Linked DNA regions of Homo sapiens: region 2 is linked to region 1. A link means that fine-mapping ties the variant in region 1 to the expression of a gene that starts in the linked region. Tissue or cell type: whole blood. Region 1 holds a variant in brackets; the other region holds the start of a gene. All regions are shown on one strand. Distances are from middle to middle.

Region 1 (7,660 bases):
AACCCTATACACATATTGAGGTGAGAAGGAAAACAAGTGCTTCCCTTTGGCCGTTCCCATTTTCCAACTTGTCTTTCTGAAGAAAATCTAGTAAGAACAATATCTAGTGGCTGAAAGGGTTTTGATTTAAATTATTTTACTCCTTTCTTAGAGTTTTTCTAGATATAGGTTTCTAAACAACACATTGACACTATAGCCCATTTTCTGCCTTTTCAAAGAAAACAGAGCATGACAGGGCAAGGAAGGGAAATTCCTCAAACAGTTCAGTGTTTTAAATGACTTTTAATGAGAGCCGCTTTTACCTTTTAAAACCCTACCTTTTATGTGTATGCTTTTTTTCTGGTTTAAATTTGATTTGCAAATTTTCTTTGCTTTGAATTTTCCCCTAGGATTTAAAGATGCTCTGTCCTTTGATTTGTCATTAACATTCCGTTGGTGCCTTGCAGCATTTTATACTGCAGACACACCTCTTTCCCATGGCTGAAAAGCTGTATGTGTCCCTACATTATACATACACTTGGAGCGCTAAGATGATACCCAGAGGTAGACAGTCTATAAATCCTAGAAGAAATTGTGCATACACTAAGATGGTATATTGGCAAGTCTGGATTCAGACTAGGATGAATCTAGAAAATAAGTATTTCATCTTTGAAATATTCCCACCCAACTTTCTTTCTTAAAGTACTGTACTCAAAATGGACAGTTCTCTTCAACCTGTATGGAAGCTGTTGTATTAAAGATTTCCAGATGTACTGGATATATCCAGCAATATTGGGAGCTATGCTAATTTCTTTTTTTTCTTTTCTTTTCTTTTTCTTTTTTTTTTTTTGAGACAGTCTTGCTCTGTTGCCCAGGTGCAATGGCACAATCTTCGCTCACTGCAACCTCTGCCTCATGGGTTCAAGCGATTCTCCTGCCTCAGCCTCCCTAGTAGCTGGGATTACAGGCTCCCATCACCACACCCAGCTAATTTTTGTATTTTTAGTAGAGACAGGGTTTCATCATGTTGGCCAGCTGGTCTCGCACTCCTGACCTCAGGTGATCCACCCACCTCGGCCTCCTAAAGTGCTGGGATTACAGGCGTGAGCCACCGTGCCTGGCCAAGCTGTGCTAATTTCTTGAGAACATAACCTGGAAAGGCTGAAAGTCCCTCAAAAAAGCCTCCTACTTGGCATGGTGCAGTGTTGAGAGTTGGGCAGGAGGGTAGTGATATTACCTGGCTAGGGACTGAAAGGAGTGACCGAGGGCAGTCTCACTGAGTGTTGCATGCCGCAGCATAGAGCTGAGAAAACACTTGACAATCATGAGCCCTACCAAGGGGCAAGAAAATGCTAAATGTTTTGTTGGCCCAATAGGTGTGACATAAAGACAGGGAGGCCTCCTGAGGGCCTCATCACCGGATGCAGTGATAAAGTTCAAGGGCAACAGTAGTGATGTCAGCACCCAGGCAACCAAACCAGACCAACCTCATCTCATAATTTTCAAGACCCAAATGAAATCTGTCCTGTGCAGTGGAAGTCAGTGGGGCCAAAGAAGAATACAAGCATTGTTGGAGTACTTTCTATGTGCCTAGAGCTGCTCTAGATGCTTTAATGAATTAAGCCATTCAAATCTTCACAACTGTTTAGAGTAGTTCAATTTTTATCCTCTATCTTACAGTGTGACAACTAAGGCCCTGAGATGAGAAGCATTTGGCCCAAGTTTATGCAGTGGCTCATGCCTGTAATCCCAGCACTTCAAGAGGCTAGGCAGGAGGATCCCTTGAGCCCAGGAGTATGAGGCCAGCCTGGGCAAGATAGCAAGACCTCGTCTCTACTAAACATAAAGAAAATTAGCAGGGTGTGATGGAGCGAGCCTGCAGCCCCAGCGTGAACCCAAAAGTATCTGAGACAGGTCTCAATTTAGAAAGCTTATTTTGCCAAGGTTAAGAATGCACTCATAACACAGCCTCAGGAGGTACTGAAGACACATGCCCAAGGTGTTCGGGTACAGCTTGCTTTTATACATTTTAGGGAGACATAACACATCAATTAATACATGTAAGATTTACATTGCTTCTATCTGGAAGGGCGGGACAATGTCAAGTTGGGGGTCTTCAGGTCATAGGTAGATTAAAAAATTTTCTAATTAGCAATTGGTTGAAAAAGTTATTATCAGTAGTAAGGAATGTCTGGCTCACAATAAGGGATTGTGGAGACCAAGATTTTATCATGCAGATGAAGCCTCCCAGGAGCAGGCTTCAAAGAGGGCAGACTATAAATGTTTCTTGTCACACTTAAGGTCTGTGTTGAAGTTAATGCTGGAGGGGTATAATGAGGCATATCCAACACCCTCTTCCATCACGGCCAGAATTAGATTTTCATGTTAACTCTGTAATGCCGTTGGCCAAGAGAAAGGGTCCATTCAGATGACTGAGGGGCCTTAGAAATTTTTGGTTTATACCAGCTACGCTGAGAGGTTGAGGAAAGAGGAGCACTTGAGCCTGGGAGATTGAGGCCGCAGTGAGCCGAGACTGTGCCACTGTACTCCAGCCTGGGCATCAGAGCAAGACCTTGTCTCAAAAAAAAAAGATTACACATTTGGTAAATTGCAGAACAGAGCTTTTTGCCCAAGTGGCTTATAATCATTACAGAAATTGCCATTGTGCCAGACCTTTCTCCTTCTCTGCCTCCAAGTTACAGAAGTTACAGAAGCTTCTCATTGCACCCATGTTTCTCAGGTGGCTCTCTGCTTTCAAATTGACTGAATACCGCCCAGGTGCAGTGGCTCACACCTGTAATCCCAGCACTTTGGGAGGCAGAGGTGGGTGGATCACCTGAGGTCAAGAGTTTGAGACCACCCTAGCCAACAGGGTGAAACCCCATCTCTACTAAAAGTACAAAAATTAGATGGGGGTGGTGGCACGCGCCTGTAGTCCCAGCTACTCTGGAGACTGAGGCAGGAGGATCGCTTGAACCCGGAAGGCAGAGGTTGCAGTGAGCCGAGATCGGCCACTGCATTCCAGCCTGGGTGACAGAGTGAGACTCCGTCTCAAAAAAAAAAAAAAAAAAAAAAGATTGAACATCTAAAACAGATTGTTTCACTGAAAGAGACTCTTTAAAAAAATTAGAGCTATATTGATATATAATTAACACCATAGAATTGAAGCAGCTACCTTGTCTGGGGTAAATACCTGGGGTTCATCATCTCGTGCCACGAAAATTAAGGACACGGACACACCTGAGGAGTTAAGGAGTAGAGGTTTAACAGGCAAAAGAAAGATAAAGGAAAATAGCTCTCTCTAGTGAGAGAGAAGGGACTTCTGAGAGGAAAGAACCAGCTGGTGGATGCGCCAGATTTTATAGTCAGGCTGGAGGAAGTGGTGTCGGATTTATATAGGGCTCACAGATTGGTTGAATCAGGTACTAGGTTTACATAGCTCAGGAGAAGGCTGGCCGCCCCACCCTAATCTTATTATGCAAATGAACTTTCCCCTTGTCCGGTGCCACTTTGTTTGCTCCTTCCTGTACACCTGGCTGGCCAAGAAGGGAAGATGGAGTCGCCATTTTGAACACAATTGACAACAACTGCCAGCTTGTATGTCTGCAGCTCGATTTTACAGGCTGCTCTTTGTTAGTAAGCAAAATGACTTGGGGCTGCTTTTCATTTAAAGGAAAACCTTACCGAGGTCTTCTATACCCTCACTATCTGTCTAAGTAATTTCTTTTCTTT[C/T]TTTTTTTTTTTTTTTGAGACGGAGTCTGGCTCTGTCGCCCAGGCTGGAGTGCAGTGGCGTGATCTTGGTTCACGGCAATCCCCGCCTCCCAGGTTCAAGCAATTCTCCTGCCTCAGTCTCCCGAGTAGCTGGGATTACAGACACATGCCACCATTCCCAACTAATTTTTGTATTTTTAGTAGAGACGGAGTTTCTCAAACTCCTGACCTAAGGTGATCTACTCTCCTCAGCCTCCCAAAGTGCTGGGACTTTACAGGCATTAGCCACTGCACCTGGCCCAGTAATTTCTTCTTAACTCCTATATCAGAATTTACCCATTTAGGCTGGGCACGGAGGCTCATGCCGGTAATCCCAGCACTTTGGGAGGCTGAGGCAGGTGGATTGCTTGAGCTCAGGAGTTTGAGACCAGCCTGGGCAACATGGCAAAACCCCATTACTACAAAAATAAAAAAAAAATTAGCTGGGCATGGTGGCATGACAGAGTGGGTGACAGAATGAAACCCTGTCTTAAAAAAAATTACCCATTTAAAGTGTACAGTTTTTTAAGTGTTTTTTTTTGTATATTTACCGAGTTGCACAACCGTCAACACCCCCAATCTTAGACCATTTCCATCACCCCATAAGGAAACGCCCCTGTCCATTAGCAGTCACTCCTCATTTCCCCCAACCTCCCCATCCCTAAGCAACTACTAACCTACTTTCTGACTCTATAGACTTGCCTGTGCTGGAAATTTCAAGTAAATAGAATCATGAAATGTGTATTTCTTTTGGTTGTGCATACAATAACAAGGTATATTTGGCAAGCCTGGATTCAGACCAGGATGAATCCAGAAAATAAGTATCTCATTTTTCACTGAAGTATTCCCACCCAACTCAGAAGAGGGGCTTCTTTCACTTCATGTAATGTTTTCCGGTTCATCCATGTTGAAGCTTATTATCAGTACTTCACTTCTTTTTATTGTTGTATAATAGTGTACTCTGTGAATAGCCCACATTTTATTTTTCCATTCATCTGTTAATGGACATTTCAGTTGTTTCTACTTTTGACTCCTATGAATATGCTGTTATGAACATTCATGTACAAGTCTGTATGTGGACATAAGTTTTCATTTTTGGGGGGTATATACAAAAGATACCTTTAAATCTAGAAATTTCTACTTATAGCTCTCACTGCCATATTACGCACTCTCTTGCACTCTCTCATTCCTTGCAGATGGTGTCCTTCTCCAGAATATTACTGATATTGGTCTCCAAAGTAATGAACTTCTTACAAATATATTTATTTTTCATGTTATAACTTTATTCAACAATAATTCAATAACATTTATTTTATTTATTCTAGTTTTGTACCAGCCACTACACTGGATGCAAGAGATATAAAATAAACTAGAGTGTCCCTGCCTTTAAGGAATTTACATCTAACTGGGGAAGTGGAGAGGGGTAGAAGAAAACATAGACAATTAGAATATTATTAATGTGTGTTGTAGCAGAAACAAATACTGTGCTTTAAGGCACACAGGAGGGACACTTATTCTGCAGAGTCAAGGAAGGTGTCGCAGAATGTGTGATGGAAACTGGGCTTTGCTGAGCAATAAAGAGGGAATGGGGACAGATGGGCATTCTAAGCAGAAGAATTAGTATGTGTGAATGTCCCGAGTCAGGAAGACCATGGCTGGACTTGGAACCATAAAAGTAGGAGCTGATGTAGAGTGCCCCACGTCTGGTGGTAGAGAGGTGGCAGGTGAGGTGGCAAACCAGGCAGCATTGACATCATAGTGGAACTCCTATGTCCTTCTAAGGGTTTGGACTGAGTTTGTAAATAATGTGCTTCCATTGAAAGATGTTTAACCTGGAGAACTGATTATTATTAGAGAGTTTAGAACAATATGAACTTTTGAATAAGTATCATAAGGAACTCCTGAAACATCTTTATTATTATATTTCATGATTAAGTGCTTGACAGCTGGAAAGCCTAGGGTTGGTGGTTGAAAGAACCTATCTACGCAGGAAGCAGATTTCACCCAGGTGGTGTTATTTTGTTGGTATTCCCCATTTAGTGGTTCATGGCTCAGTGTAGAACTCTTTGACTTTATTTTGTTGTTGCAGGGCATTACTCTGCCTTATGAAATGCATGACCCTATCATTACCTCTCCAAGGTTTTGGTATGTTCTGCATTAAGCTCTATAATACTACACAGAAATTAAAAATCACCCACTGAGTCTTCTTTGAAGATCCGTTTCAGCGTCCCTGAATACCTTCTTGTTTGCTTGGTTATGCTGTCAGCGCTTCTGTCAAACATGGAATTCCCAGATAGCCTCAAGTCCTTTGGGGGCAAAACTTTGTCTTGATCACAGGATCTTGTCACAGGATCTTGTCACAGGATCTTGCCAATTTTTACTTAGCTGGATTTCTGTCAAGAAACAAAGGGGCAGGGAGTGGGGGAGAGAGAGAGAGAAAGAGAGAACAATATGTGAGGAAAGTAGTCAGGGGGAATTGCAAATAGGAAGGTAAGAATATCATTCGTTGAGACAGAGGGTTATAGAAGTAATTCGGCATATCAACAGGAAAATAAATACATCTGTTTATAAATTTTACAGATATTTGGTGACAATAATCAAGATGAGCAGATTTACATTATTAACATATAATAACAAGTATAATTCACAAGTCCTCAAAACAATTGCAAAACTGCAAAGGACCCCAAAGGATCTTCCCACACACCCATGACATTTTCTAGTTTGTAGCATAGGCCCTACTTTCCTAGACACTTAACTAGAAAATTCTAGAACTTTTCTTATATACCATGTCTAATGTCACAATTATAACTATCCTCCATCCCTCCCATTCTTTTTTGGAGATGGTGTCTTGCTCTGTCACCTAGGCTGGAGTACAGTAGCACGATCTTGGCTCGCTGCAACCTCTGCCTCCTAGGTTCAACTGATTCTCCCACCTCAGCCTCCCAAGTAGCTGGGATTACAGGCTCCCGGCACCACGCCTGGCTAGTTTTTGTATTTTTAGTAGAGACATGGTTTCACCATGTTGGCCAGGCTGGTCTTGAACTGCCCGCCTTAGCCTTCCCAAGTGCTGGGATTACAGGCGTGAGCCACCGCGCCCAGCCTTATTCTTCCTTTCTTAATGACTAAGATCAATTCCTTCATTTCTTTTTAATAGTTATGGAGTAGAAGCGTCACTATAATTTATTTACCAAACCTCATATGAGTATTTAAGTAGCTAACAAGGACAGTGTTATTTCAGGAACAACAGAAAATTTTAAGTGTAAATGGATGAGTAATTGTTTAGTTTCAAATACAGGATGAAGAACAGACTATACTCTGAGAAATACTGATATATTGTTAAGTAAATTCTAACTCAGATGTATCACAGTGCTTAGATCTTTAAAACAGGACACTATATGCTGGGCATGGTGGCTCATGCTTGTAATCCCAGCACTTTGGGAGGTGGAGGTGGGAGGATGGCTTGAGCTCAGGAGTTTGAGACCAGCCTGGGGAACATAGTGAGAACTTGTCAATACAAATAAAATAAAATAAATAAATAAAACAACACTATGAGGCATAAAGGAAACATCTGACATATATGTATATATTAAAGACAGGAATGAAAATTCCATTTAATAAATTTTTGCATTTTTTAATTTGGTTTTTAAATTGAGGTATAACTTATTACTGAAAGGTGCATAAATTTTAAATGTACAGTAAAATAAAATTGTATACATGTATAAAACCTTATAATCCTAACCCAGATCAATATATAGAACATCTCCAGCACCTCTGAAAGCTCCCTTTAATTCTCTCTTTCCTGACTCCATTAATATCTACTTCAAAAGTAACTATCATTTTGACTTTTTTTAATTTTATTTTTTTTACACAGAGTTTTGCTCTGTCGCCCAGGCTGGAGTGCAGTGGCGTGATCTCGGCTCACTGAGACCTC
Region 2 (7,660 bases), 110 kb after region 1:
AATATTCTAGAGCAACTAGTTCTCTTAGAATATTAGTATACTTAATACCTCCCATTTATAATTTTTTCTCAGTTGCACTCAAGGTCTTGAGTCCCCTGTCCTCACTGTGCAGGACCTGGCAGTGAATCCACCCCTTGGGATGTGGTGGGGGGTGGATTCTGTGACCGCAAATGGGAGTACGTTTCACCCATGGGTCAGAATGCTGTTACAGGGATGTGGTAAGAACAGATCTGCATTCAGCAGGACACACTGGCGAGCAGATGGAGCCAGCCAGAATAATTCAGGAGCAGGTGATACCCACATGTCCAGTGAAGCAGGTAGAACTACCTAGAAGTAGGTTCTCAGCCACTAGGCCCAGATATAGGATTTCATGTCTCTTCAAGGGAAACCGACAGGAGAAACGTTGGTGCCAACTTAGAGAAAAGGCCTTGAAGGCATGTCAGAGCTCAGGTATCAGGACTGGGGTCAACTGACATGACCAGACTCTGAATGAGGCCCATGCTCTGTCCTCCAGGATGAAAGTCTCCCAGCTCAGCTGAGCTCTGATTCCAGAGTCATCTCTGTGGTTGACCTGCAGGTGGGGATCAAATGGTTGCACTGTGGACAGAAAAGGGCTGACAGGGGGAAGTGGGGGAAGGCCAAGTACATTATGAAAAACCAGCGAGGCCAGGCACAGTGGCTCACGCCTGTAATCCCAGCACTTTGGGAGGCTGAGGAGGGCGGATCACTTGAGGTCAGGAGTTTGAGAACAGCCTGACCAACATGGTGAAACCCCGTCTCTACTAAAAATACAAAATTAGCCAGGCGTGGTGGCACATACCTGTAATCCCAGCTACTTGGGAGGCTGAGGCAGGAGAATTGCTTGAACCCAGGAAGCAGAGGTTGCTGTGAGCTGAGATCATGCCATTGCACTCCAGCCCGGGCAACAAGAGTGAAACTCTGTCTCAAAAAAAAAAAAAGAAAAAGAAAAACCAGCGAAGGCCCAGCTTGAGCAGCCAATGGCACAAGAAAATGGCACAAGGAGGCCACTGTAACTGACAGACACGCCTGCTCTGCCACTGGGACTGATCTTGTGTGGGGAGTTCTGATCAGCACCAGGCACTCTTTAGAAGCACCGTGTCCGGCTTCTGTCCTCTTCTACTGTCACGTGGCAGAAAATTCCTCTCTCATGCTATCCTGGGTAAAGTCCTTTCTTCAAAAAGATCTCCCTTCCATAGTCCTCCCATTAGAATCTTTTGCACTCTGTACAAAAAGACAAACATTCTGATGAGTCCATCAACATTAGGCAGAGTTGTTGGAGACCCAGGAAGATGGGCTACAGAAGTCTTTATGCACACACCGGGTGGTACTCACTGTCTCTCAGCACCAAGCTCACTTCTTGGTACTTCACTCTGTGGTGCCAGGGCTGGGACCTGCGTATTTCTCTCATTCTGTTTCCAGCTGACCTGACCGTGGGCAGCACCAGAAAAAGCCTGAGACTACCTTCTGTCTCCAGTCCCTGTCAGCGACTCTCCAGCGACAGGCAACGGCGCCAGCTCCAGACTCCAGCTGCTCTGGGCCTCCCAGAATCAGCCACACCATGCTTGTCAGAAGTCTCAGCAAGAATTTTGGAGAATATCTAGAGACCAATAAAGATGGAAGCAGAGAGGGCCTAAGGAGGTGCACGGCCAGCAAGTGCCCTCATGTGATCAATGAATTTTAGAATATTGGTACCTAACCTTCAACTGAATTATAACTATAAATCATAATTATAAAAGTAATATAGGCTTGCCATAAAATATCCAAGCAGTTTAAAACGGCTTCCTGTCAACCATGTAAATAGCCAAAGAAACTATGCTGTATATATTATTCACTAGTTTTATTTTTTCACTTAACAATGCATCCTTCTAATGTCTAAGTAGTATTCCCTGTTAAGAATATAACAATTATACTCTAATATTCTCCAATTGATGGACTTTAGGTTGTTTTGATTTTTAAATTATGATAAAAAAGGATGTCCTGTGACTTATGTACTTGTTCATGAGCACGTAATTCTGTAGGAGAGATTCCTAGAAGAGAAATTGACCAGACCCTGACAAATTGCCCCAAGCAGTGTTCTGTGAACCCTCCCGCCTATGGACTAGGGATGATTCTCCACATCCTCACAGAGTAGATGTTCTCAATCTTTAAAAATGCTCTCCAGTATGATTGGCAAATCAGGCCACCTCTGTATTTCACATTCCTTGCTTAACAACAAGGCTGAACATTGTTAATATATTCATTAGCCAATTGTGTTCCTTTTCCTATGGATTGCTTTTTTGTATCTTTGCTTATCTTTTCTGTTGGGGTGCTCATTTCTCTTACCAATTTGTAGAAATTCTCAGCTACATCAGGGATCTGAAGCCCTTGCTATATGTGTCACACATGTTTTTGGCTTGTCTTTATCTCCATGGCACATCTAGGAAGATGTGAGCAGCCACTGTGGCCCCGGTTTTGGGATGGAGAGACAGCTCTTCCAAGAGAGGGCAGCCAAGGTAAAGAAACACAGATGAGCCACGGAAAGAGGGCATCTGTCTTCAGTTACCTCTGCAGGGTAAGCAGTGATGCATTGAGGAAAAAGTATATGATTTGGAGATTAAAGGGCTACAGTTCATCCCCTGCTAACTATGTGACCTTGGAAAAATGGTCTAACCTCTCCAAGGCTCAGTTTCTTCTATAAAAGAGAGGAAGTAATGGTTACTTCATATAGGATTGTTGTGTGGAATAAACGAGTAAATTCATGTAAAGGACTTGCTTTGGGGCCTGGCATCCAATCAGTGTTTGAGCAATGAACAGTTTACGGTGTGAACCCAATAAAATCACATGCACAGATGCCTTCTGATGATTTAAAGGGCTATGAACACATAAGTAAGTAGCTGTTACTTTTACACACAATTATCCATGTCAGGTAATGTACTAGAAGTCTGTGAAACATTCAGCCACTCTCTTAGTTCTGAGTTTGGAGACTGGAATGCTCTCTGAGAGCGTCAGGTGCCCTCCCACATTCACTGATTGGTAAAGGGGAAGATGGGGGCTGGGAAGGGGGAGGCTCACTCAGGAGTCCAGACAGTGGTGGGGACAACCTGAGTGCTCAGTCGTAAAGAGGAAAGGCAGAATTTTTCCTTGCTATGGCTGGAACAAACGCACTTTTGATGCTGGAAAACTTCATAGATGGAAAATTTTTACCTTGTAGCTCATATATAGATTCTTACGACCCATCAACAGGGGAAGTGTATTGCAGAGTGCCAAATAGTGGAAAAGACGAGGTGAGTATATGCACTTAAAGAAGACTGAAATGTGTTTAATATGTTGGCCAATTATGGGTAACAGTTTTCTAAAAGCAGAGGGAGTTGGGGGAAGATGTAGGATTGTTAAACATGATAGAAGGAAGATTCTAGTTCTCAGAAGATGTACCTTGTAACTGGACTGTATGATACCTAGAACAAATCTCTTCCTATATGCAGAAAGTAAGTCATTTTTCTAGCCAACCTAACACAGCCCTGTGTGCAGTTTTTTTTTGCAATTCTCAAACATTTCCTAATCAGTGTCTAGTACAAAGTATTATTTGTAAGAGCTATCACTTTGTTAAATATTCCCTTTTCTCCACCACGCACTGCTTAAATTTACCACTATATCCATGGAATTAAAAAAAAAGTATAGCTTTACTAAAATAAACAAACAAGCAAAAAACTGTGGGCTTTGTTTTAGATTGTCTTCTCATAATTTGTCATGTCTTCAAAATACCTAGTAAAATAAAATCAATCATTTGAATGATGAAACTCAAAATCAAATTCCCATATATTTTTGGAGTTAGATTTAACAGCGTCTTTTTTCTTATCCAAAGTGTTTAATGGCATATGCATTACATTTTTTTGGTGATGTAGAATTAATTTTACTTGGAGAATTTTGTAAAATATTTGAGATATATTTGATTAGCTATCAATTATTGCACTGAGAATGTAAATATATCTGAAGTGGTAAATGTAGCTGATGTATATATAGTCATCTAATGCCTTATGAATTATAATTTATTCTTTTTAAGGCACAAATAACTAGATTATTTAAAATATAGTCTTCCTATAAAAATATATATTCCATGCAAAGTTTTTTTTTAAGAACATTGCTATTTTTTTTCTTTTTTGTTAATACTTCAAATCTGTCTTGCATTTAAAGTAAACCTTCAGACTTAGGGATTAATGTTTGCAAATGTTGGTTAATGCATTGGTTAAATTATAAACTGCAATTTTGTTTGCTTCAAATGACTTAACACAGCTCTGGGAAATCCAGCTTTGTGTTTTCCACTCTTCCTTGTTTGCCAAAGTGAAGTTAAAAATGACAAACATGCCAAATTCAGCTGAAATATTTCCTGCAGCTAATGGCTCATAACTTTTTAGAAAATAGAATGAGCTATGGATGCGCTAGCTAGTAGAGTAATAGATATGTTCAGTTTCTCAGCAATCCAACTTCCAAATATCCTATCTGATCCCATAAGTCATAGTTTTTTCCGGCTTGAAAAATATGGTTACCATACAAACTGCATGTCCAATTTCCAAAACATCACTCAGGAAAATGTTGCTGGTGCTGCTAACAGTGGCTCCCGTTTATTCAACTTTTGCTTTGTGCTTTGCAGTCATTAAGCCCTTTTTTAACAAAAAATTAAAAAATTGATACATAATAATTGTACATCTTTATGGGCATATGTGACATTTTGATACATGCATACAATGTGTCATGATCAAATCAGGGTAATTAGGATCTCCATCACATTAAACATTTATCATTTCTTGGTGTTGGGAACATTCCAAATCTTTTCTTCTAACTATTGTGAAATATACAATAAATTATTGTTAACTATTGTCACTCTACTAGAACTTATTCCTTTTAACCATATTTTTGTATTAATTAGCCAACCTCTATCCTCTCCTCTACCCTTCCCAGCCTCTGGTAACCATAATTGTACTCTCTACCTCCATGAGATCAACTTTTTTAAGCTTCCACATATGAGTGAGAACATGTAATATTTGTATTTTTGTGCCTTGCTTACTTCACTTAACGTAATATCCTCCAGCTCAAATCGTGTTGGTGCAAATGACAGGATTTTGTTCCTTTTTATGGCTGAATAATATTCCATTGTGTATATATACCATATTTTCTTTATCCATTCAGCTGTTGATGGACATTAGGTTGAGTCCATATCTTGACTATTGTAAATAGTGCTTCAACAAATATGGGGGTACAGGTATCTCTTCAGTATACTGATTTCCTTTTCTTTGGATAAATTTCCAGTAGTGGGATTGCTGGATCATACTGTTGTTCTATTTTTATTTTTTTTTTTTTGAGAAACCTACATGCGTTTTCCATAATGGCTGCACTAATTTACTTTCCCACCAACACTGTATTTGTCTTCCCTTTTTTTTTGCAGCTTCACCAGCCTTTTTTATTTCTTATTTTTTGATAATGACCATTTTAACTGGGATGAGATAATAACTCGTTGTGGTTTTGACTTGCATTTCCCTAATAATTAGTGATGTTAAGCATTTTTTATATACCTGTTGGCCATTTGTACATCTTCTTTTTGTGGAATATCTCTTTAGATCATTTGCCCGTTTTTAAATTGGATTTTTTGGGCGGTGGCTATTGAGTTGTATATGTATATATACAAGCTCAAGCTCCTTATATATTCTGGTTATTAATCCCTTGTCAGATGGATAGTTTGCAAATATTTTCTCCCATTCTGTAGGTTGCCTCTTAACTCTGCTGTTTCTTCTGTTGTGCAGAAGCTTTTTAGCTTGATATTATTTTATTTTGTTTATTTATTTTCTTTTGTTGCCTGTGCTTTTGAGGTCTTGCCCAAAAAAATCTTTGCCCAAATCAGTGTCATGAAGTATTTACCCTATGTTTTCTTATAGTAGTTTCATAGTTTTGGGTCTTACATCTATCTAAGTCTTTAATCTGTTTTGATTTGTTTTGGTGAGAGATAGGGGTCTAGTTTCATTCTTCTGCATATGGTTATCCAGTTTTCCCAGCACCATTTATTGGAGAGACTATGTTTTCACCAATGCATATTTTTGGCAGCTTTGTAAAAAACGAGTTGGCTGTAAATGCATGGATTTATTTCTGGATTCTCTATTCTGTTTCACTGGTCTATGTGTCTGTTTTTACACCAGTGCCATGCTACTTTGGTTACTATAGCTTTGTAGTATATTTTAAAGTCTGGTAGTGTGCAATCAGTAAGCCCTTTAATATAGATTATCCAAAGAAGCGAGTTGTAACAACTTAGAAGTCTCTATTATGATCCTTATTTTACAGAGGACAGTACTAACACTCTCATCTCTGATGCTTAGATCCATGGGCATGTGCACCTGTGCGTGCACGCACACATGCGCACCTGTGCGCGCGCGCACACATGCGCACCTGTGTGCATAGCACATTTGCATTATAGCATTGCAGTTATAAGCACATACTAGAGTCAGACTGCCTGGTTCAAATACAAGCTGCACCACTTGGTATCTATGGCTTTGACTTAGAGCTGAACTTTTGCATGCCTCAGTCTCCTCATCTATAAAATGAGGATAATAATGATATCTACTTTATAGTGTTATTCTGAGGATTAAACTGACTAATATGCTTAAAGCCCTTAGTGCTTGGCATATAGTAAATGCTTTCTATGTATTAACTTATGCTAATATTATTGTATGTAGTACATTAATATGTATTCTATATTACATGGACATAAGTTGTGCTATAAGGCAACTTAGAAAATATGAGTGGACTTGAATTTTCTGAATAGCAAAAAGACCAGATTTTTACATTGACTGTAGGAATTCATGCTCCTCTTGCTGGCTGGCAGTGGGGCTTCCTCATGGCTGCAGCTGGTGGTGGAGGTCACCAAAGCCATCTCTTCCCCTATCCTGTCTGCAGGTCCACATTCAAGATTTAGTTTTTGAGGTGAAGCCACCATATTTCTAGAAATTTCTAATTAAGATGAGAATCATTTTATACCTTACTTCAGCTCAGCTAAAAGTGACTGTATTAGTTCGTTCTAACACTGCTATAAAGATAATACCTGAGACTGGGTAATTTATTAAGGAAAGAGGTTTAATTGACTCAGTCCTGCATGGCTGGGGAGGCCTCAGGAAACTTACAATCATGGCTGAAGAGGAAGCAGGCATGTCTGGCGGCAGGCGAGACAGCGTGTGAAGGCCAAGAAAAACTACCATTTATAAAACCATTAGATCTCACGAGAATTCACTCACTATCATGAAAATAGCCCCCACAAACCAATCACTTTCCTCCCTCAACACAGGGGGATTACAATTCAAGATGAGATTTGGGTTGAGACACAAAACCTAGCCATATCAGTCACTTTGCATGAGGGAAATGAAGGAGGGGTGTGGGTCAGGTTTTGCATGAGGGCTAGCACAGGCTCAGGCGGCTAGATTACTTCGGGTCAAGCGCCCCAAAAAAGATGCTCACGGCTGCCAGAAGCCTATGGAAAAGGATTCTGAGTCTGAGCCAGGGCCCGGTGGTGGAAGACAGCTGTGATTATAATAATTTTTCATGCATGTGAGAAAGGAGAGGAGTGAGACATGGGTTAGGGATTTGTCATCTCTGGAGAAGGCATTACTTAGACATTGCCGGA

What was found. PIP is the estimated chance that this variant, and not a neighbour inherited with it, causes the effect.
Region 2: ALDH8A1 starts here. The variant in region 1 is fine-mapped to the expression of ALDH8A1 in whole blood (INTERVAL, PIP above 0.99).

The regions. Positions count from the first base shown.
Region 1 is chr6:135,058,677-135,066,336 of GRCh38, reverse strand. It overlaps LOC124901405 (a long non-coding RNA gene), which reads right to left. Exons shown (of 2, transcript XR_007059775.1): 2 at 4,991-6,122. It overlaps LOC124901406 (a long non-coding RNA gene), which reads left to right and starts at 7,601. Exons shown (of 2, transcript XR_007059776.1): 1 at 7,601-7,660. The variant C/T (reference allele first, on the strand shown) is at 3,712.
Region 2 is chr6:134,945,540-134,953,199 of GRCh38, reverse strand. It overlaps ALDH8A1 (aldehyde dehydrogenase 8 family member A1), which reads left to right and starts at 3,099. Exons shown (of 7, transcript NM_022568.4): 1 at 3,099-3,284. The coding sequence starts at 3,147.